Linked DNA regions of Homo sapiens: regions 2, 3, 4, 5 and 6 are each reported to be linked to region 1. The links are microRNA targets in miRTarBase. Many come from high-throughput screens and were not tested one by one. Region 1 holds a microRNA gene; each other region holds the end of a gene's coding sequence. Distances are between the middles of the regions.

Region 1 (4,015 bases):
TTCCTGAATTCTAAGTATTAAAGAGATATAGGGCTTAGTCTTCAGACTTCTTTTTTTTTTTTTAACTTCTCATTAGTCCTCAGCTGTTCTCATCTTGTCTTGCAACTCTAAGTACCATTTTATGTGGATGATTTCTGTGTTTGTATTTCCAGCCTGGACTTCTCTCCTGAATTCCAGATGCCTATGTCCAACTATGTACTGGACATCTGCCCCGAATGTCTAATAAGTATCTCAAAACTTTAACACATCCAAAGCTGAGGTCCTGGTTTTCCTCCCCCTCTCAAAAAGCCCTACTCCTCCCTCTGTGTTCTCCAACTCAGCAAACAGCATTTCCCAATTGCATATGCCAAGGATATGGAGAATTTTAATAAGCTAAAGGTTTTGGATTCATCTTTGACACTTTTTCCCCTCCATTCTCCAAATACAAACTGCTGTCAAATCTTGTTGGCTCTACTTTCAAAATACATGTCTAATCTGACCACACAGCCACTTCTCATACTTCTCACTTCCTCTATTATTTCCACACTAATCCAGCTTTTCCCTGGGCTGACAAGTGCAAGTTCTCTTGCGTCTGTCTGTCTGTCTGTCTCTCTGTCTCTGTCTCTGTCTCTGTCTCTCTCTCTCTCTCTCTGTGTGTGTGTGTGTGTGTGTGTGTGTGTGTGTGTGGTGTGTGTGTGGACACAAAGTGGTTGGTGGCTGAGAGCTTGAGCCTCCTTTTTTGAGTCCTCTTTCTAATGACCTGCATGCCAGATTCTAAGCTTTCTTACCATCTGTTCTCGTATGTGTGTTATTTCATCTGTAAAATAGGGATAATGATCACCTCATGGATATTTTATGAGAATAAATGAGCTATGTGTGAAAAGCACTTAAAACAGTGCTCTGCAAATGTAAATACTATACTGGTGTTAGGAATAAAAATAAAGGAAAAGAAAGAAGGAAGGAAAACAAATATGTTGTAGATAGTGAACATTTCTGAAGGTACATATGTGAATGTACACAAGCACACCTTCTCATTACAGCATGTCTGGGGCACAGTCATAGAAGTCCAAGGCATCTGGGATACGCATGCACACAGTATACAGGAGAGCAGACCTCCCGACTTGCTTTCTCTCCTCCATGCCTTGAGTGTAGGACCGTTGGCATCTTAATTACCCTCCCACACCCAAGGCTTGCAGAAGAGCGAGCCTTCTCTTCCCTCTCCAGTGCATAGGCATGAGCACATGGACAGGTACACCAAAGGGAGGTAGACCCTCTCTTACGTGCTCTGTATGTGGGGTACACTGTTAGCAGCCATCCCATCTGGATGACTGTCCTGCTTCCATGGCCACTGCTCCTAGTTTACCCATCAGCACTCCTGTGGCTATCTTGCTGCCCACTTGCACCCCCCAGGCCAGTGCCTCTTGCCTCCTAGAGCATACCCATATGTCGTGCCAAGAGAGCAAGCCCTTCCCTGCTCCCTCTCTCACATCCCTTGCATGGTGGAGGGTGAGCTTTCTGAAAACCCCTCCCACATGCAGGGTTTGCAGGATGGCGAGCCTCAGCTTTCCTTGCTCTCTTGTGCATGTGTATATACACATACGCACTCCTTCACCAAAAGAAAAACACACACCCATGTGGTGGGAAGGAGAATGACTCTCAGCCATGTCCTTTCTCCCATCTCAGTCTTACATGGATCCTGCAGGAGAGGGAGACTTCTCTTAGCTTTCTCTTGCACATGGTGCAGCCCCTCATACTCAGGGATAGGCACAGCCTAGAGAAGGAAGGGGGGTCTTTTGACCTGGTTCTGTCTTAGCGGCACCTAGAGGAGGAGAGAGAACCTTCTCAGGACTCCTGTACATGGGGCATGATGAAAAGGGAGTCTTCTAGCTAATTCTCACAAACCCAGTTTGTGAGGAAAATTGTGTCTATATCATAACCATATGCAAAGATGTAATATGCACACACATTTTGGGTTCAGAAAGTAGAATCCACTCACTGTGCCATGCCTTTCCATATGCACACTTGTTTGCTCAAGAGGGTGTGTGAAGATCTGTCTTCTTAGACACTCATGTAGATATGAGTCAGATTGTGAGTTTTCTCTGTTATCTCCCCAGACCCAGGATTTGCAGCCGATTCATTTGGTGAGCCACTCATTCATTCAGCAAATATTTATCGAGCAGCTACTGTGTGTTGGGTACTCCCCTATGCACCAGGGATACACCAGTGACCAAAAGACAAGAATCCCTGCCCTAGTGAGGGGAGGCAGGTAGTGAACAAAATAAGTAAGTAATAGATAGTGTGCCAATTGTTGATAAGTGCTCTGGAGAATAATAAGGCAGGAAAAGGGGACAAGGAGTGGGTGGGGGTAGTTACAGCATAGATGGTGGTGGAGAAGTTTCGATATCAAATAGGGTAGTCAGGAAAGGCCTACTGTGTTCTAGGAACAACAAAGAGCCATTGTGGCAGAAGCATAGGGCTGGGAAGTAGTAAGTTACAATGGAAAAAGGGAAAGCTGATAATTACTATGTATCTCTAAAATCTAAGGCCGCTTTTAAAAAAAAAATCATACCATTATCACACTTAAAAATAATTACCATCCAGGCACAGGGGCTCATGCCTGTAATCTCAGCACTTTGTGGGAGGCTAAGGTAGGCAGATCACCTGAGGTTAGGAATTCAAGACCAGCCTGGCCAACATGGTGAAACCCCGTCTCTACTAAAAATACAAAAATTAGTCAGGCCTGGTGGCAGGTGCCTGTAATCCCAGCTACTCGGGAGGCTGAGGCAGGAGAATCGCTTGAACCCGGGAGGCGGAGGTTGCAGTGAGCCAAGATCGTGCCACTGCGCTCCAGCCTGGGTGACAAGAGCGAGGCTTCATCTCAAAAAGAAAAAAAATTGCCAACAATTTTTTAATATCATCACATATCTGTTGTTCCCATTTCCACTTGTCTCAGAAATATCATAAATTAGGATCCAGATAAGGTCCATGCATTGCATTTGGTTGATATGTATCTTAAGTCCCTTTGAATTATATCTTTCCCTTCCATCTATATTTTTTCTTTCCTTATAATTTATTTGTTGGAAGAAAGTGGGCCATTCATCCTATACAGTTTTGCATAGTCTGGATTTTTGTGATCACATCCCTGTGATGTAGTTTACATGTTCCTTCTCCTTGTTTGTATTTCCTGTAAACTGATAGTTGCATCTGGAAGCCTGATCAAATTCAGGCTTAATTTTGAGGAAGGGGGAGCAGAACTACTTCCATTAAGAGGCACAAAATAACTGATGATCATCTTTCTGTGATGTTAGTTGCCACCGATGCTCAATTCTTAGAGCCGTTATTTCATTAGGGGTTGCAAAATGATGATATTCTAATCCCATTATTCTCTTGATTTATTAGCTGGAATACTTCTATAAAGAAAAACTTCCCTTCATCTGCTATTTGATCACCCAGTGTTGCCGTCTTTATAGGCAAGATAGGATAAATGTTTGGTTCTCTTTATTTATCAGTACTCAGAATAATGAGTTGGTTCACTAGCTTACTCTAAAGAGGATTTTTTAAAAAAACTATTATAATAAACTCATAGATTTAAATATATTTGGACTTTTAATCCATTGCAGTTCTTGCCTTCAGTGAAGCTCCAGTGCCCCATCTTTAGCCAGTAGGAGCTTCTTCAAATTGGTTCCTCAGTCCTTTTGACATGCCTCCGTAGTTATCTGATAGCTTCTCCGCTTTCAGAGATGAAAAAAATGTACAAAGCTCATCGCAGATACCTTCCCCAGGCCTGGAATCTGCCATGTCTTCAAGAAGCCCTGGTTTCTTTTAATCAGACATGATATTTAAAGACCATATTTGCCTCTGGATTGGTCATTGTATTTAGGCTTCTACAATGATCAGAACAGAAAAATGTTTTGTTTTTGTGTTTTCTTGTTTCTAGATAAATACATCATGATTCCATTATACTTCTGATTCAAAATCAGGATTACAGTTTTCTGTGTCTTTGCTTCACAAGTATGGTTCTGACTGTTGTATGGCA
Region 2 (3,000 bases), not on the chromosome of region 1:
CACTGACTGAGCCCAGGTCGCCGCCCTCCCCACCGCTGACCGCCTGCTTGTGTCTCCACAGCATCAAGATGGTGCTCATGTGGACCAGTGGTGACGCCTTCAAGACGGCCTACTTCCTGCTGAAGGGTGCCCCTCTGCAGTTCTCCGTGTGCGGCCTGCTGCAGGTGCTGGTGGACCTGGCCATCCTGGGGCAGGCCTACGCCTTCGCCCGCCACCCCCAGAAGCCGGCGCCCCACGCCGTGCACCCCACTGGCACCAAGGCCCTCTGACAGTGGGGAGGACGAGGATGTGGGACCGCCAGCCGCGGGCACTGGTGGGCCCTGACCTCCCCGCGGGGAGGGTGGGTGCTGTGGCCCCTGCAGGTGTGGCAGAGATGGGGCATGGGCATTGGGGTCTCCATCAGCCTCTGTGGGGTGTCTCAGGGTGGGCAGTGGGGGTGGGGCTGGGACGCTGTTTGTGCTCAGCGGGGACAGCCAGGGTTGATCTGGCCCCGAGGGTTTTGGATGTTTTTAGGATGACATAAAAAGCAAGTGTTTTCCCCATTTCCTCTTATGAAACACCGTCTGAGCCCAAGGTACACATTGGGCGGCCTGCAGGAACCTGCTCCAGGTGGACACACGGGCCAGCAGCCGCGAACCTTGAAGCTGGGGTGACCGCAGGAGACCCTGTAAGGCCTGTGAGCGGAGCCCTCGACCCCGTGACACCCTGGCCAGACACCCTGCTTGGACTGGGGTGGCCTCTGCTACCCAGGGGTCTGGCACGGGGGAGGGCTGGGGCTTTCTCTGCCTGGTACACACGGAAAGGCGGCTGTGCGGACGCAGGGTCACCGTGCTCCGGGTTTTCTGACAGTCGGTGTTTCCTGGGCCTTTGGAGTGGCTGCGAGGCCTGAACGCCTTGTGGATCCGCTGTGTCCAGCCCGGCTGAGCATCGCCAGGGCTAGCTCATGCTGCTCTTGTCAGCCTCTGGTTCTCCTCGAGTCCTTGGGGACGTGGCAGATGCCAGCGACCATCAGACAACGTGGAGGCCCTCATGGGCAATGGCTGAGGGGGCCGGGCTGAGGCTGTGCACATGCAGTCTGCACGCCACTCTTGGGCTCTGCTGGCGGAGATCCCCTTCCTTCTGGGTGCAGACTGCACCTCCGGATGCAGTTTTGATGTCCATCTTCCAGGAGAGACGGTCTCGGGTCCAGGGAGTGGAGGGGGCTGCCCCTGCCGTGCAGGTCCTGGCCGATGGCGCCTTACCCTGCTGCCCTGGGCTTTTGGCCTGAAGCAAATTCCTGAGTGGGGGGTACTGGGGCCTGCCGCATCCTGTCCTGTCCACTGCCCACCCCCGTGTGCTGGCTCCCTCACTTCTGGCTGCAGTGGGAGCCGCCAGTCTGACCCTTGTCACCGCACGCTCTGCCCCCACCCCGTTGCAAGAGGTCACACCATGTCAGCAGCCTTGCACTGACCGCAGCCGGCCCCCAGGCCTCAGAGTTCTGGATGCTTCCGTGCGGCTCCAACAGGCATCGTCTTCCCTTCCGCAGGTGGAGGGGCCGCTTCCCGCAGGCATCTGAGCTCTGTGCCGGGGCCGTGGCCATGGGAAGATGTTCCACGCTGCCTCCTCCTCGAGTTTTCCTCGGAAACACTCTTGAATGTCTGAGTGAGGGTCCTGCTTAGCTCTTTGGCCTGTGAGATGCTTTGAAAATTTTTATTTTTTTAAGATGAAGCAAGATGTCTGTAGCGGTAATTGCCTCACATTAAACTGTCGCCGACTGCAGGCGCAGTGACTGCTGAATGTACCCTGTGTGGCGACTTGGAATCAATAAACCATTTGTGGATCCTGAGTTGGCCTTGGGCAGAGGGAAGGATCTGGCTGTGGTCCTGGCCTCTGCCCAGACACACCCTTGTAGCCTGGGCCACCTTAGAAGGCCCCTGTGTGACCTGGGTTCCTCCAGGGCCCCAAACAACAGCCCAGCCCCCTCGACCTGTCACTGGCCTGTGCCTGTGGGCCGGCAGCCCGGGGGTCCTTTTGGCTCCTCACAGACGGGTCTGGCACTGCCTCTAGCTGCCCTGGCCACATCCGCCCTTCTGCCTCCCACCACCGAAGGCTTAGAGCATGGGAAGGGTCTCCTGTAAAGGCCAAGAGAAGTGTTTCCAGATTTGCGATCTTGGAGCAGCACATACAGATGGAGCTGTGTGTGCATAGCGATTTTTTCTGTGCAGTTTACATTGAAGGCAAGATGTTTCTTTGTCCAGTAAAAAACCAGGTGTGTGGGTGCAGGGCAGGATTTGGGTTGAAGGGCCCATCTGGGTACTAGGAGAGGGCACAGGCCACGTCCAGGCAGCAGCCTGGGGGAAGACTGGAGATGATGAAGGCTAGCGTGTCTGGAACGTCTCAGATGCAAATCGCCCTCCTCAAGTGCTGGCGGGCGGTGCCAGATGAACCCGAGATCTAGCGCAGGGATGGGGTTGTGTGTCTTCAGGGTGTGGAGACAGGCGGTTCTTGGGGACCACTCTGGGTTTTAACAGGAAATGGGAGCAAGGTCTCAGCCCCGCACTGCAGGGGCCGTGGCAGGTGGGGGCAGCGGTGGAAATAGCTGCGTTTCTGAACTCTCAGGTCACTGCCACCCTGTGATGCCTTCTGATGGTTTTAAGCAACAAAGAAGCACCAAGGAAGCAGGAGGCCGAGGAGGGCTCCCAGTGAGGGCCCCTCCGTGGGAGAGAGCGGGTTGTGAGAGCCTGGGAAGTTCACATTCCCCTCACCCCATGAGGAAACTGAGACCTGCCCTGAGCCCCAGCCCTGTGCCCTTCCCAGGGGCTTGTGTGAGAGAGCGGCCCACTGGGCACCTGTAGAGTGAAAAGGATGCCCAGGGGCTGGGTGGGCCGCTTGCTCAGGAGGAAATGTACCCCCACCCCAGTCTCAGCACAACTGCCTGGCACCCCCATCCTGGTGACCCAGGGTGGTCTCTGGTGGGCCCTGGTCCTGGAGGGCTCTGGGATTCCCCCACCAGACCCTGCA
Region 3 (3,000 bases), not on the chromosome of region 1:
TTCCAGTACCGCCCTTCCTGCTGGAGCTCGGCTCCCGCGTGCACTTCGCGGTGCGCTACCAAGTGGCGGGTGCCGAGTACTGGGACAACAACGACCACCGAGACTACAGCCTCACATGTCGCAACCACGCGCTGCACATGCCTCGCGGGGAGTGCGAAGAGAGCTGGATCCACTTCATCTGAGCCGCGCGGGGACCGGCCACCTGGAGCCTCCACACCTAAGCTGCGCCTCCTGTCATTTCCCTGCTGGGCTCTCACATCTATCTGGTTGTTCTTCACCACCCTCCAAGTCCTCTGACCTAATTTTCTGCTGCAAGGTCCCCTGGCAGTGGCCCATCCTGTCTTCTACTTGAAACGTCTGAGTCACTTGGTCTAAAAAGTAGCCTCAGGTGGCCAGAAGGCCGAGTTGTGTAATGAGTTGGGGCAGGGTGGTGGGGTAGGTGCATGGGAGGGTGGGCCCTCTGGGGAGGCCCAAGCAGCTTGTTTTGCAAAGGCCCAAGTCCTCCTGCTAGGAAAAGCTTTTGCATGTGTCCTGAATGTGTCTCTGTAAACATAGCTGTTATTTATTATTGTGATGTTGGGACCTTTAGCCCATAGCGGATGCCTCCTCAGGAATATTCTCGATTTAATAAGCTAAAAAAAAAAAGTTCTGTGTTTGTGCCCACAGTAAACAGAATGTACAGTGTGACCCACATCGTGGTCCCTCCAGGCATTCCTGCCCCAGGATAAGGAAAACCTGAGCCCACATCTGATTGCCAACGGCTGTAGCCTTCTAACAGTGGGAAACTATTAATAGGCAAGAAATTTCTGCTTTATCAGTCATCACACAACCATTCCTGGGCATTGAGACTGTCCTGGTTAGGCTGTGTGTCTCCTACATTAACAGCTGGGGAGGAGGGAAAAGCTTCAGACTTTTAAACTAGCAAAACAGTTATTTCTCTGCATTCACAATTCTGATTTCATGTATTTCTCTGTACATGTTTGATCATTATCAGGCCATTCTGTTTAAGTTTGAAACTAAGCATTTTAAGAAGTCTTGCCTCAGTTATTTCAGTTTTCAGGTGACTAGAGAATTTCAGGCAACAGTGCCCTTTGCAATTACCTTTTTGATGATTAAGGTGACTATTTTTATTTCTTGTTAAGCATCAGAAGATGTCAGCATTCATCTTTTGGGAGTCCAGTTACAAGGTGGAACTAGAAGGTGTTTTCAGCAATAGCCAGAGCACTGGAGGAAAAATAATTGACAAATATTTATACTTTTAAATTGTTTTGAACTGTATTTACATACATCATGTTTTATCAGGTACCCACCAACTTTATACTTTCTGCCTTCAGATAGAGTTTCTAACATTTTCTAGTTTGTCAGTTTTAAAATATAAAATTCTTTTATGTTTTTAAACCGTCAACCAAGAAGTCAAGACCACTGTCCCCTGCTGAGTTAGGCAATCACTTAAAACTCCAAAGAACTCCAGGCTGAGGAGTTCTTTTGGTGCTGAACAGTGGTCTGACAACAGGTGCTAGAATTAAGGTGTGGGAAAAAAAAAAAAACAGCCAGGAAGGACAAGATCTCCAATTTGTGAAGCTTATGATACAGCTGAAACCAGTCTGATCAATTTTATGCTACCTGTCACCAAGAAATTAACTCTAAATTTTTGAATGCTTGTTGGCATCTGTCAAATCAATACTGAAAGGATGCATTTCGGCTTTTAACCAGTTTGGTTCTGATCATTGCAACCTCTGTGCTTTTATAATTCAAAGAACAAGGATAGCTTTCTTCGGTATCTTTTAATATAAGAACACTGAATTTTGGCTTGAAATATTGTGACTAAATTGCACAATCTCTGGCTATTAGCACTGTTCACTACATTAACATGCAAGAGAGAGAGAAGCCTTGTTACATTTCCTGCTATTTAACAAACTGTCCAATTAGGTCAGCAAGCCTGTTAGGGCCTTCACTGCTACGCCCCTGGCCCCAAAACAGAGAGCAAGACAGTTGTCCAGAGAATTTAGATATGAGTTAAGAGCTGCCAGATTTATTTTAAGGCATGTAGAGAATCTCATAATCTATGTGAAAGTCACTTGCCAAAAAGGTTTTGGTTATGAAAGTGAATGTTATATATTTAATATTAAGTGAACCTCCCGTGCCTTTTAAAAAATACCAACATTATGAAATTTAAAAGCTTAAATATATTTGCCTAGTTGATAAAGAGGCTGTGGAACAACTGAAGGAGAACTTTCAGACCCTAAAACAGTTATATTACTTAGATGTTAAAATTTTCTAGTGGGCTGTGCAATTGCTGGGTTGTCCCCCCAAACATATTTTAATATGTTATTTAAAATGATTTTACCCAAGCCTAAGTATTAAAGTATATGTGCAAAAACAGTTGTGAGCCATTCTATTATGCTTCAGTATGTTTTTCTTGTGGCCTAATTACAGAAGACCAAGCTTTAGAAACTTCTTGTCTAAATCATTTCACATGCAAGTCTTATCCTTTCTACAACACTGATAAACGTAGAGCCTTGGCAAAAATAAATTTTGTCATTGTGCCTCAGCGTCAGTAGCAGAGTTGTTGTATGTGTCTTTGAGAAAAGGAAATGCAATTTTATATGCCAGGTCAGCATGAGGTATGAAGAAAGCTCTAGGGGAATACAGGGAATGTGATCATTAATGTACTTCTCTTACAACAGTTAATGACACTGTGCAGGCAGTAATGAGTGTCTGTCTGTCTGCCTTCCGGATCGTGACCCTCACCTAAGTACAAAGTCTTGCACATGGGGGAAGAAAACTTACATTTATTTTGTCTTCCCTTATTTGCTTGGCCACAGTGCTAAGTGCTTTAAATATGTGATTTCATTTAATTCTGAATGTTATGCTACCTGGTAGACAATATCCCCTTTTTCTTAGCTGAAAATAAAGCTCAGAGTGGTGTAAGTACAGCCATAGGCCACATAACATTTCACTCAACAGGGTAACTGTATATATGACGTGGATCCATGGAAT
Region 4 (4,015 bases), 7.0 Mb from region 1:
GTGTTATGCATTGATTTTGTTAATTTCCTTTCTCGGTCCACCTGGCAACTGTGCTCCTCTTCGCAGGCATGAAGACCCCGTTTGGAAAGGCAGCTGCAGGGCAGCGGTCCAGGACGGGCGCTGGCCACGGCAGTGTGTCTGTTACCATGATAAAGAGGAAGGCTGCACACAAGAAGCATAGGAGCCGACCCACCTCCCAGCCTCGGGGGAACATCGTGGGCTGCAGAATTCAGCACGGATGGAAAGATGGAGATGAACCTCTAACACAGTGGAAAGGAACCGTTCTGGATCAGGTACCTGTAAATCCCTCTCTGTATCTTATCAAATATGATGGATTTGACTGTGTTTATGGATTGGAACTTCACAGAGATGAAAGAGTGTCATCACTTGAAGTCCTTCCTAATAGAGTTGCATCATCTAGAATCAGTGATACACACTTGGCAGAAATAATGGTTGGCAAAGCAGTGGAACATATTTTTGAGACAGAGGAAGGTTCCAAAAATGAATGGAGGGGGATGGTCTTAGCTCAGGCACCTGTCATGAACACATGGTTTTACATTACCTATGAGAAAGATCCTGTATTATATATGTACCAGCTCTTAGATGATTATAAAGATGGTGACCTCCGCATCCTTCAAGATTCCAATGATTCTCCTCTGGCAGAGAGGGAGCCAGGAGAAGTCATAGACAGCCTGGTAGGCAAACAGGTGGAATACGCCAAAGACGATGGCTCCAAGAGAACTGGCATGGTCATTCATCAGGTAGAAGCAAAACCCTCTGTGTACTTCATCAAATTTGATGATGATTTCCATATCTATGTCTACGATTTGGTAAAAACATCTTAGAGGTCATCTTGAAATTTGCCAAATATATGAGACTCTAAATCTGTAGACACAGAAAGTCTTGATTGCTTTCCAGTTTGTAAGAACCATCTTCTCCCTTTTTGCACGTTTTGCTTGGCAAAAAAATTGGAACTTCTGCCCTCTCATACGTTTTTGGAAGAAACCTTTTGCCCATCTGTCCAACCTTTTCACTGGTTCCTCTCCGCAATTTAACTGATTAGTGAGAAGGGTAAAGTCTGACATCCATTGGCTCATACTTTTTTTTATCTTGGGTGGTGTTAATAGATTAAAGGTAGCTGAACACCTCTCACCTCACTCTTTTTGGCACTTGGACTCTACACTCATTGAGGTGTGAAGCTTGCTGAGATATCCCATGTGACTGGCTGGGTAAGTGTCTTTGCAATCTCAAATCTCCCCCAAGTGGCTTCAAAAATCTAACTTGGGAAAGAGTGGGAAGCCCATTTTGGTCTCTTGTTCAAGTTGCATTCTCAGTTCTAACTGTACTAAAAGTAAGGCTAATAATTTTGCTCTCTTTCCGGTTCTTTCACCTATTGCTCAACTGTTTTAGAATTAAGAAGGTAATTACTTTGCATTTTAGTACCTAACCATAGGCTGAGAAACCTTGCAAAACTGATAAGAAGACAAGCATTTGGGGACCAAACTCCAAGTGGAGAGATCAAGATTTCTGGTGGAGCTTAAGTGAAAGGTTTTAGTCATCAGTGGCATTAGGGTCTCTCTTGTCTCCAATAGCTCTGGCTGGTATCTGCAGACATGGAGTAGGTTTTAACTGATAGAAGCTGTGCAGGCAGACTTTAGCACAAATGGTCTTTGCCAGCCCAGAGGAGCATTAAGCCAGGCTCTAGCTAGAGCCCTCAGTCACAGGCAAAGGCTGGGTTTGGCTGGGTTTGGACAGATCTGTCCAGAACCTCAAAATGAAAGAGGAGAAACCTAGAATCAAACTGAGATACAGATTTCTTTGCTGTGCTAAGAGAGACTCAAGTTTTAGATTTGATTCTTAGGAGACTGAATTCAGAGTCCCAGCATGTGAGGTGGGCAAGGCACTTGTGAGAACCAAGAATGGCTGAAAGCAGGCTATACTTCCTTGCAGGGACTGGTGGGCTCATCTATTATGGTATCCCAGCAGGACTTGGAACACAGTCAGTGGTAGGTAATCTGTAGGCTTAATGATGTTTTAAGTGCTGGCATTGGTAGATAGAAATCTAATAGATTTTTGTTAGTGTTTGGATTTTTAACTATCCTGTTTCTTGGCTGGCCCTAAGAAACTTATATGCAGATAAGGGTGAGTTCTACTGTGGCAGAAAAGTAAACAATGGAAGGGCCTTTGAGCTTTCCATTATTAAAGAGCCATTGGCGGAGGTTAACCAAAGCCTAGGAAAGAAAAGTTGAAGTACAAGCATGGTTTTTGAGAGAAGCACCTGGCCAAAACCAAAGCTTTCTCATTGAGGTTCTCACAGAAGCTCCATTAGCAGTAACAGCCTAATAAGGCCATGGAGTTCTGCACATTTGGGGCTGGGACTCAAGGCAGTACAATCATATTGGGACTGTACTGCAAGATATCTTCCAAATTAGTTTAAGTTCACAGGTCATGGAGTCCAGACTACCGGCACAGATTGGCATCCTGCTGAGGATGAAACAAAGAAGATGTTCTCTTTTCTCCTATGTTTTATCTGTCTACTTTTGCTTTTTGATGCCACTAAGTCTCTACTATGATGTTTGACTGACAACAGCAATGTGGGTCTGTATTGCCCTATGTTCTAAGTCCTGGGGTCATATATTTGCTTAAAAAAACTGTTCTAGTGGCTGGGGACTAGTGTGCTTTCTAATTTTTTTGATGTGAGGTTGATATTGTGATAATCTTATGTCTTCTTGACCCTTTGGACTCTTTAATATGTATGACATGCAATTGTGGGGTTAGATTAATTCAACTCCTGAGGTCCTGAAGGAACTTCACCCAGTCAAGAGGAAGACAGCCAAGGCTGCAGCTGCTGAAGGAACCCCATATCTGGGCAGACATCTTTGTGAGATCTATATGGCTGAAATGAGAAAAACGAGAAATTGGGAAAGGCAGAATTTTGGACTTTAATTATTTTGGACTTTGAATTAGAAATTTAATTTTGGGCAGTCCTTTTTCCCTTGGAGTTTAATAGTTGATGGGGTGGGGGTGAGGTCATATAGTTCAAACTAAGGCATTTTTATTATGTTGTTGATATTGTATTATTTGGAGTATTTTAATGCTATCTTTGGGAGTCATTGTATAATTGTTGTCAGCTATGTCAGGAAATATGGCTGGACATAATTGTAAATTAGGGCTGCAATTGTGATCAAATTTTCAGTCTAGGGTGTAATGTAGCCTTAGAGTTAATTTAATTACTGTTCTATTTTGACTTATTTCAGAGCCTCTTGGGGGCAAAAACAACTGCTCACCAATCTTACATTGATGGGAGCAGAACTTTTCTAAGATACTGTTGGTCTCCCTGGAAGGGGACAGCCACAGCCCTGTTTGTTGACCAGAGTCTTGAGCATTAACCATTGTGGCTTAAGAGAATGAAAATGTACAAGGGTATGATGGGATCTATCCTCTTCCTCTCTCCATGCTCCTGACTCAAGAAAAGGAAAAGACTTGCATCTCTCAAAAATGTTTGGAAGAAAGTTCTACCCATCTTCTCTTACACTCATTCAATCTTATGCTTGGGAGGAGGAATAACTTGATGAGATTGAGAAAATGGTTATAATGGATAGGCAGCTTAGGCCACTCTTGGATCTTGAGTTCGTTCCACACAGCAAGATGTGGGAAAGACTGCAGTCCTTCACTACATGGCTGGGTAAACATCTGCTTTCTAGACCCAACTATCTCTCCTTGGGGTGGGGGAATCCCAAAGTCGTTAGACTTATGATAGAAGTTCATTTCAGCCTCAGGTCCAAGCCATGTTCTCCAATCCAGCTCTATCAGCTATAAAGCTGGTATCTATTTTGATTCTTTTTTACAGTTTTAATATATAAATTGTTTTTTAGAAAAATAACACATGCCTATGGTAAAAGTCAAACAGTATAAAAGGGTATACTATTAAAAAGTAAGTCTCTCTTCCTCCTTCTCACCCCTGGCCTCAGTTCCCTGGTCCCATTTTCAAAAAGTAACAACTGTTACCAGTTAC
Region 5 (4,015 bases), not on the chromosome of region 1:
CATCTGTGTACAGCCCTGCCTTTGGGCAGGGAAGCCCATGAGGTTTTGTTTTTGTTTTTGATTGAGATGGGGTCTTGCTATATTGCCCAGGTTGGTCTGGAACTCTGGGCTCCAGCAGTCTTCCCACCTCAGCCTCCCAAAGTGCTGGGATTGAAGTCATGAGGTTTGATTGTCAAACTCCTCTTCATTGGTGTGATTATGGCTCACTGCAGCCTCAACCTCTTGGGCTCAAACAATCCTGTGGCCTCGGCCTCCCGAGTAGCTGGGCCTATAAGGCATGCAGCACTATGCTCACCTAATGTTTGAAAAAATTTTGTAGAGATGGGCTAAGTTGCCCAGGCTGGTCTTAAACTTCTGGGCTCAAGCAGTCCTCCTGCCTGGCCTCCCAAAGTGTTGGGATTATAGGCATGAGCCACCTCGCCTGGCCTTCCCTCCTTTACTACATTCTCAGAGACCTCTTAGGAGTTTCCCAAGGGGGAAATTTAGAAAAGTGGGGAAAGCGTTGGTAAAAAAGGCCACCCTCTCTACTTGCTTCCTTATTCTTAAGCTGCAGGGCTCAACATTGATGGCATCCCCCCACACCTACATGTCTAAGGCCTCAAAATCAGAAGTCACGGAAATCTTCCCTTCTGTTCTGTTGCCCTTAAAAACTCACCTATTTCCTTTTTTCTGCATTCCTTTTCTGTCTTCATGTGTAATAATATGAGGTGACCTTTGTTGTTGAGCACAGATTAAACTCAGGAGCTTTATGTGGATTATTTCATTTAATCCTTACGGTGACCCTGGAAAGTAGATGCTGTCATCTACCTCTTACAGGCGAGGAAAAGGAGGCTCAGAGAACATAGGCACTTGCCTTAAAAAGTGGAAAGTTGAGTCTCTCACTCTAGAGTCCATGTTCTGTTAACCACTTGGCAGCTAGAACATGTGTCCTTGTGTATCCAACTTCTTTCCTATTGAGAATTAATTCTTTAAAATAAATTCTCAGGAGTTGGGATAATTGGGATAGAGGGTCTGAATATGATGATAACCTGTCAAAGCTTTGACCCTTCTTCACTACCTCTCCTGCCACAGCGCCTGCCTCCAGCACCCTGAAGATGCTGTGTGATATGTCCTCCTTACCAAGTTGGTGATGGCTGCCTCATGGTGGGCCCTGGACAGGTGTGTGGTCCTGCTGAGCTGTCCACGTGTCGGAAGACCTGTTTAAGACAGTCATTTTTGCCTCTCCGCCAACTGTCTTCAGAGAAACCATTAGGTTAGGTGATACGGTGCCAGCAAGGGAAGCACCATCGTCCAGGATCTGCAAATCTGGTTCCTGGGAACCCCAGACTCCTCAGCAGATCTGGCTGTACATGGATCAGAACCACTTCTTCCCCCGCTTAAGCTGTGGTTTGACCCAAGGGTCAGCATATAGGACTGCCTGCTGCATTTAATGAAGGTGTTTCCTTTTGGAAGTCTGTGCTACCCTCTGCGCCTAGTTGGGAGGAGACATCCATCTGGTCTGGGATTTCGGGAGTTAGAATGGAAAGCTCTTTGCTAAAGACTGGAGTCATCCTGGCCTGCCAACTGGTGGTTCAGAGCCGGACGGGCTTGTTTTGGACATCACTGTTGCCTTCACTCAGCAGCCACGGGAGAGTGCTCCCCATGCAACTCCACCTTAGAAACCACGTCAGATACTGAGTAGCTTGCTGACTCCTGGAAACTTCTGGTTTTTGTTAGTATCATAATGAAGGCAAAGAGAACTAGGCTGTCATCTTTCAGCCTCTTTGACTTACTCTAGATGTTGGGAGCAGTGGTTGCCAGGTGAAACCTGGGCCCTTTGTCTTTTTCACCATGCTTTGGGCAGTTTCTGTATCCAGAGAGTCCGCAGGTTCAGATAAGCTGAAGAAGAGTAATAGAACAGCAAAGGAAGTGGCTTGAAGGATGTGCTAGTAAGCCCTGTGGTTTGTGCTTAGGTCTCTGCTCTGCTACCCAAGGAACTGGTGGTTCAGCTGGAGATAAAAAGAAGAATTTGCCAAGTCAGAGAAGAAACCCCAACCCCGGAAAATCCTCTGTCTCCAGTCTCTGGAGGTGAAGCAGGGACAATAAGCTAAGGTAGTATCTTGGCCATCCCAGGAAACTTGTGGCATTAGGACGATGAAGGCCATGCTTCAGTGTTTTCGTTTCTATTTCATGAGACTTTTTGTCTTCCTGCTTACAAGTGGGAAGATGATTGACAGTGACTCTACTATGCAGGGCTGTTGGTACCAACCTGAGCCCTATAGGTGGCAGTCCCTGGAGAAGTGGTCACAGAAGATGGAGCTCTGATCCCCTGCTTACCTCTTCACAACACTTGTGTGCAAAGATAGTTTTAGATTTGGTTTAGAAGCTATCCTCCAGAACAGGCTCCCATACTTAGAATGTTTCTAGTTAAGGTAATAAATTAGGCAACCCAAGTGTGACTCCACTCAAGTGTCCTTTTCTGTAGGCAGGAAGGGCCCACAACATGGCTTAAAATGTAGTCCATGGTTCTGGCCCACAGTACAGTGTGTATCTATACCAGGTCACCTGTGTTCAATCTGGGAGCCTTCCTGGCCAGTCTGAGTGGCAGCCAGAAGGGAGCTCATAGTGTCTAGGAGTCTCAGGCAAGGTAGGTCAGGGTACTGTGGGCAGGGGGGATGTGTGTGATAGGAGAGGGTACCCTAAACCCCATACCTTCCCTCCCTGACCTGAAAAGCTGATCTCAACAGGGATTCACACAGAATTAGGCTGTGTTTTTGCATTAGCTGGTAGGTGACTTTCTCAAAATTCTTAAATTCAGAAAGTATTTAGTAAACTTGAGGAAGGTATGAAATCTGGAGGAGGCATCCAGGACCCAGGGGTTTGATAGCTTTACAGGTAGGATCATACCACACCAAAAGAGCAGTGGACAATAAGACTATATGAGCTATATGAAGCTTTTAGGAATCATTTAGGACAGACAGAGCCCTAAACAACCCATTCATGACTTAAGTTGTTGGCTCAGTGTATGCTGGGGACAAAGAAAAACTAACAAGCCGACCTGCCTTTATGATAAATTCTAGTGTGCTTACAAGGGATGACTTCCTGAGGTGTGATCTGTCCACCTTGAAGAACTCCACAACTGAAGAAGGGGAGCTGTGAGAACGTGGATTGTTCTACAACTTGCACAGGGTAACAGAGGAAGTGGCTGAGGCCTAGAGTCACGTTTTCCAGTTCCCTTCGCAAACTATATTTCTTGGAACGCGAAAGGAAGCTTTACCTATTTCATAGAAGACCTGGAATCCATAACCTCAGAAGGCAATATTATTGATAGAAAATGTGGAAGGATCAGGAAGTTCTTAGATTCTTGGATGACAGATGCATGTTGATGCCCTATGGAGATGTCCTTGTGTTTTGAGGTCACTGAGGTAGGAAGACCTGTCTACTCTTGGTTTCACCACTAGAACAGTCTTGGGCTGGATGGGTTATAGAGCTGAGCGGCTGTGATGGTTCTGTTTTTACATTAACAAAAACAATTAAAAACACCAAAAACAACATTTGGATTGCTTCAGCTTCTTTTCAGTTGACTTCTCATATGTATTCTGGAAACCACCCAATGAAGTGGGCACCAAAGGTAGAGCTAAGATATTGTAAGGCCAGTGATCATCACCTCACCAATGCCAGGTGGTATGAGGGGGTACTGTAATTTCCTTTTTTTTTTTTCGAGATGGAGTCTCGCATTGTTATTTGGGCTGGAGTGCAATGGCGCGATCTTGGCTAACTGCAACTTCCGCCTCCTGTGTTCAAGCAATTCTCCTGCCTCAGCCTCCCAAGTAGCTGAGATTACAGGCGCCCGACACCACGCCCAGCTAATTTTTTGTGTTTTTAGTAGAGACAGGGTTCCACTATGTTGGCCAAGCTGGTCTCAAACTCCTGACCTTGTGATCCGCCCGCCTCAGCCTCCCAAAGTGCTGGGATTACAGGCGTGAGCCACCACACCCAGCCTGTAATTTCCTTTCTATAAGTGAGGAAACAGGCA
Region 6 (3,000 bases), not on the chromosome of region 1:
TATATATAAGGAGATATTTTAATCAAGAGCACAAACAAGAATATACAAAATGAGAACTGAAACAGAATCTTGGATAGCATCCAGGGCTTCATGCTGATTCCATGACATGGCAGAGTATTATTGTGGTGATCCTTAATTTAAAGGGGCAACTGCTGTCCCTAAAGTGACACTTTGATAAGGAAATAGTAACAAGTCTATCCATATACATGATTAAAGATTTCTATCATTTACATTTCATAGCTGTGAGCTGACCATTTTCATGAAAATATTATGTAAATTATGATCATAACAAGTGTACCCAGAATCAGAACTGCTAATTAATTCCCCTTTCCTGTGGATGCAGCTGATGTATTGTCACACCACTAATTTTCAGAAAATTATACTAGCAATATAAGGAAATGCCTTTATGATAAACTATCAACAGCTTTCTTATATTAACATAAATCAGAAATCTCCAACTGAAGGCTGAGATGGGAAGATCACTTGAGGCTAGGAGACCAGACTGGGCAACATAGCGAGACCTCATCTCTAAAAAATAAATTAGCTGGTTGTGGTGGCACGTATCTGAAGTTCCAACTACTTGGGAGGCTGAGGCCAGAGATCACTTGAACCCAGGAGTTTCAGGCTGCAGTGAGCTATGATCACATCACTGCACTGCAGCCTGGGCAACAGAGTTAGAACCTGTCTCCATGGAAAAATGATAAAAACATCACTCCCAGAAAGAATATAAGTTTCAAGTAAGACCATTAAAAATATTTCAGATCAAGTATTGGGAAATAATTCTGTTTATGCTGAATAACTAACAATATTGATACCATATGGTTTGATCCTTGATATCCGTAAGTTATCAAGGATGGTGTCAAGGATTGATAACATAAGGTTCAATCCTTACATCTGAACAGACTCAATTCACCTGTGGACCCGTATTAATATTACACTAAAAAACCAACCCAAAACGGTCTATTTAGTGCTTTGGCAGGATTTGCTTTAATATGAAAGAATAAATCAGTATCTTCCAAGCAAAGCCAAACAAACAAAAGATCTTGAATAAAAATCTAAAAATCCATCAACTCAACTCTAAGAAAATAAATGCCTTATTGTATTATTGCACTACATTTTAGGTTATCACCAATTTTTGATAGTATGGGATTCATGTAAAAGGCATTTGAGATACTGTGGAAAGTAACGTATGCCTAAACAATGCACGCACTGTGTGTATGTGTTTATGAAATACACACTTTGGATCACTGGATAAATCACGAGTCCTTTTTAAGTTTCAATACTCTCTAATGTAAAATGGGGAAAATACCCAGAAAAGTTATCTATAGGGTTAATTGGTAGATGAGTTAGTCATTAAATTAACATTAAACTTACTAAGAGTTAGTCTAAATTGGTAGATGAGTTTACATTAAAGCACTTTGTAAAGAAAATGGTATAAATGCAAATTAATGTTAAGCACTCTTATTCATTCATATTTTAATATAAAAGCACACCAAACCCACCAATTCAGAAAGGAAAAAAAGCTAACCTCTTCTGATTCTTTTATAGCTTAAAAATGGTTTAAAATGACTTTTGCCATTCAACTCGTATCAGTTCAAGAAGCTCTGGAATAAGTAACCACTGAAGGTAAGACATCTTTTAAATAATAAAAGCCAAACCATACTATTCTTAACACCTCTCAGTTTCTCTAAAGCCAGTATGACAATCTTAAAAAAGGGAAATAATTACTCCTTTTTATCCCTTAAAATTTAAAATGTAGTTTTTACCATGTTTTCAGTAAGATTCTCATTCTGTACCAGAAAGGCAGTTCCTTAAAGACCCAAGTTTTAAATATTTAACTTTTTCTGTCCATAAAATAGGTATTATGTTTACATATTATCAGTAACACAGAGTATCTTGGTGTAGAACATTTATTTATTTTTCCCACAAATCACTGAAAGTTTAGGTCAGTGGGAAATAATTTTAATCAAATAATTGTACATATTCTTCCCACATATCCTGCCTTGTATTAGGAAATGACATTGTGATCCATTTCATTACAAGTAAAATATTACAAAATATTTACAGGAAAATATTAAAAATAACTCAAACACAAAAGGCAAGATGAAATAAACTGTTTTTTTTTCTCCAGAAATCTCTACTCCAGTGCCCACAGCACACAAGAGTCAAAACAAATAAGCAACTAAGATCCCCCGATCACAAATTTCCAAAGAACTGGAGGAGGGGAAGAAACAGGGTGAAAATGGTGGTATGAAAGGGAATGGATGTTAGCAGCACTGCTTCAATAACTGATCTATTCTGGATGAAATACCCTTTTTTATGTGCAGTAAATTCTGAACAAGGCTAAATTTTAGGATATTCCTTGAACTGAAATTAGAAAATACCCTGACAATGGAAGCAGCTCTTTCATCTAAGTTTAATAAGAGCCTCTTTCTCCATGGGCCACTGTTGTGAACAGAAGCCTTTTCTGGCATCAAAAGCTGTCACAGTAGCCCTTCCATCTCTTTCATGAAAGCCTCATAGACATCATCCTTAGTTTGTACTGAGACAGGAACAGAAGGACCAGATTTGGGTGCTGCTTTGGCAAGAGGCACAGCAGAATCATCCTCTGACTTTCTTTGGGGAGCAGCAGTAGCCCCTTTATTCTCCCGACGTACTCTCAGTGCAGTGGGCACAAATCGAGTAATCTCTGCCTTGGGATTAGTGATCTGTGGCTTGGCACTGATGGTTGCTGTGGCTTTCTTCTCAATGGTGGCTGCACTTGTATCATCCGCCTTGGGTCGCTGAATCAAGTTGGGTGGGGCACTTAAAACCCCAGGGTTTGGCAAGGGAGCTGGTGGGAACAGCCCAGGGGGGGCAGGTCCAAGGGGAGGCACCAAAGGTGGGCGCATCATGCCAGGACGAGGTGGAGGAATACCTAAATGAATAAAATAGGCAAGATGAATACTGTAAGAACTAATAAAATTTAACTACTATTAAGGACATTTAAATATTGGTTGC

Evidence for each region. Region 1 holds the annotated microRNA hsa-miR-188-3p (CUCCCACAUGCAGGGUUUGCA, at 1,505-1,525, shown strand). A microRNA usually pairs through its seed, bases 2 to 8, with sites in the 3' UTR of a target mRNA and lowers its output. Matches are read on the target gene's strand: a 7mer-m8 pairs with bases 2 to 8, a 7mer-A1 pairs with bases 2 to 7 and ends in A, and an 8mer does both.
Region 2: the mRNA of SLC66A2 is a reported target of hsa-miR-188-3p. Seed matches in the 3' UTR shown: 7mer-m8 at 288-294.
Region 3: miRTarBase lists PPP1R3D as a target of hsa-miR-188-3p. Seed matches in the 3' UTR shown: 7mer-A1 at 778-784 and 8mer at 1,529-1,536.
Region 4: the mRNA of SPIN3 is a reported target of hsa-miR-188-3p. Seed matches in the 3' UTR shown: 7mer-A1 at 1,292-1,298 and 8mer at 3,650-3,657.
Region 5: miRTarBase lists KANSL3 as a target of hsa-miR-188-3p. Seed matches in the 3' UTR shown: 7mer-A1 at 2,198-2,204.
Region 6: miRTarBase lists WBP11 as a target of hsa-miR-188-3p. Seed matches in the 3' UTR shown: 8mer at 1,987-1,994 and 8mer at 1,921-1,928.

Annotation. Positions count from the first base shown.
Region 1 is chrX:50,002,052-50,006,066 of GRCh38, forward strand. It overlaps MIR188 (microRNA 188), which reads left to right and starts at 1,452; the gene lies at 1,452-1,537. The region is part of intron 3 of CLCN5 (chloride voltage-gated channel 5); the gene reads left to right. It overlaps MIR532 (microRNA 532), which reads left to right and starts at 1,097; the gene lies at 1,097-1,187.
Region 2 is chr18:79,901,245-79,904,244 of GRCh38, reverse strand. It overlaps SLC66A2 (solute carrier family 66 member 2), which reads left to right. Exons shown (of 6, transcript NM_025078.5): 6 at 62-1,825. The coding sequence ends at 269. Among named protein-coding and RNA genes, the nearest start is that of SLC66A2, 49 kb to the left of the region's middle. RefSeq lists an enhancer at 1-78.
Region 3 is chr20:59,936,214-59,939,213 of GRCh38, reverse strand. It overlaps PPP1R3D (protein phosphatase 1 regulatory subunit 3D), which reads left to right. Exons shown (of 1, transcript NM_006242.4): 1 at 1-2,551. The coding sequence ends at 182. It also overlaps a transcript of FAM217B not described here. Among named protein-coding and RNA genes, the nearest start is that of PPP1R3D, 2.6 kb to the left of the region's middle.
Region 4 is chrX:56,991,001-56,995,015 of GRCh38, reverse strand. It overlaps SPIN3 (spindlin family member 3), which reads left to right. Exons shown (of 2, transcript NM_001010862.3): 2 at 67-4,015. The coding sequence starts at 69. The coding sequence ends at 845. Among named protein-coding and RNA genes, the nearest start is that of SPIN3, 2.5 kb to the left of the region's middle.
Region 5 is chr2:96,592,688-96,596,702 of GRCh38, reverse strand. KANSL3 (KAT8 regulatory NSL complex subunit 3) reads left to right here. Exons shown (of 21, transcript NM_001115016.3): 21 at 1,072-3,531. The coding sequence ends at 1,092. Among named protein-coding and RNA genes, the nearest start is that of KANSL3, 44 kb to the left of the region's middle.
Region 6 is chr12:14,784,582-14,787,581 of GRCh38, forward strand. It overlaps WBP11 (WW domain binding protein 11), which reads right to left. Exons shown (of 12, transcript NM_016312.3): 12 at 1-2,917. The coding sequence ends at 2,484. Among named protein-coding and RNA genes, the nearest start is that of H2AJ, 12 kb to the left of the region's middle.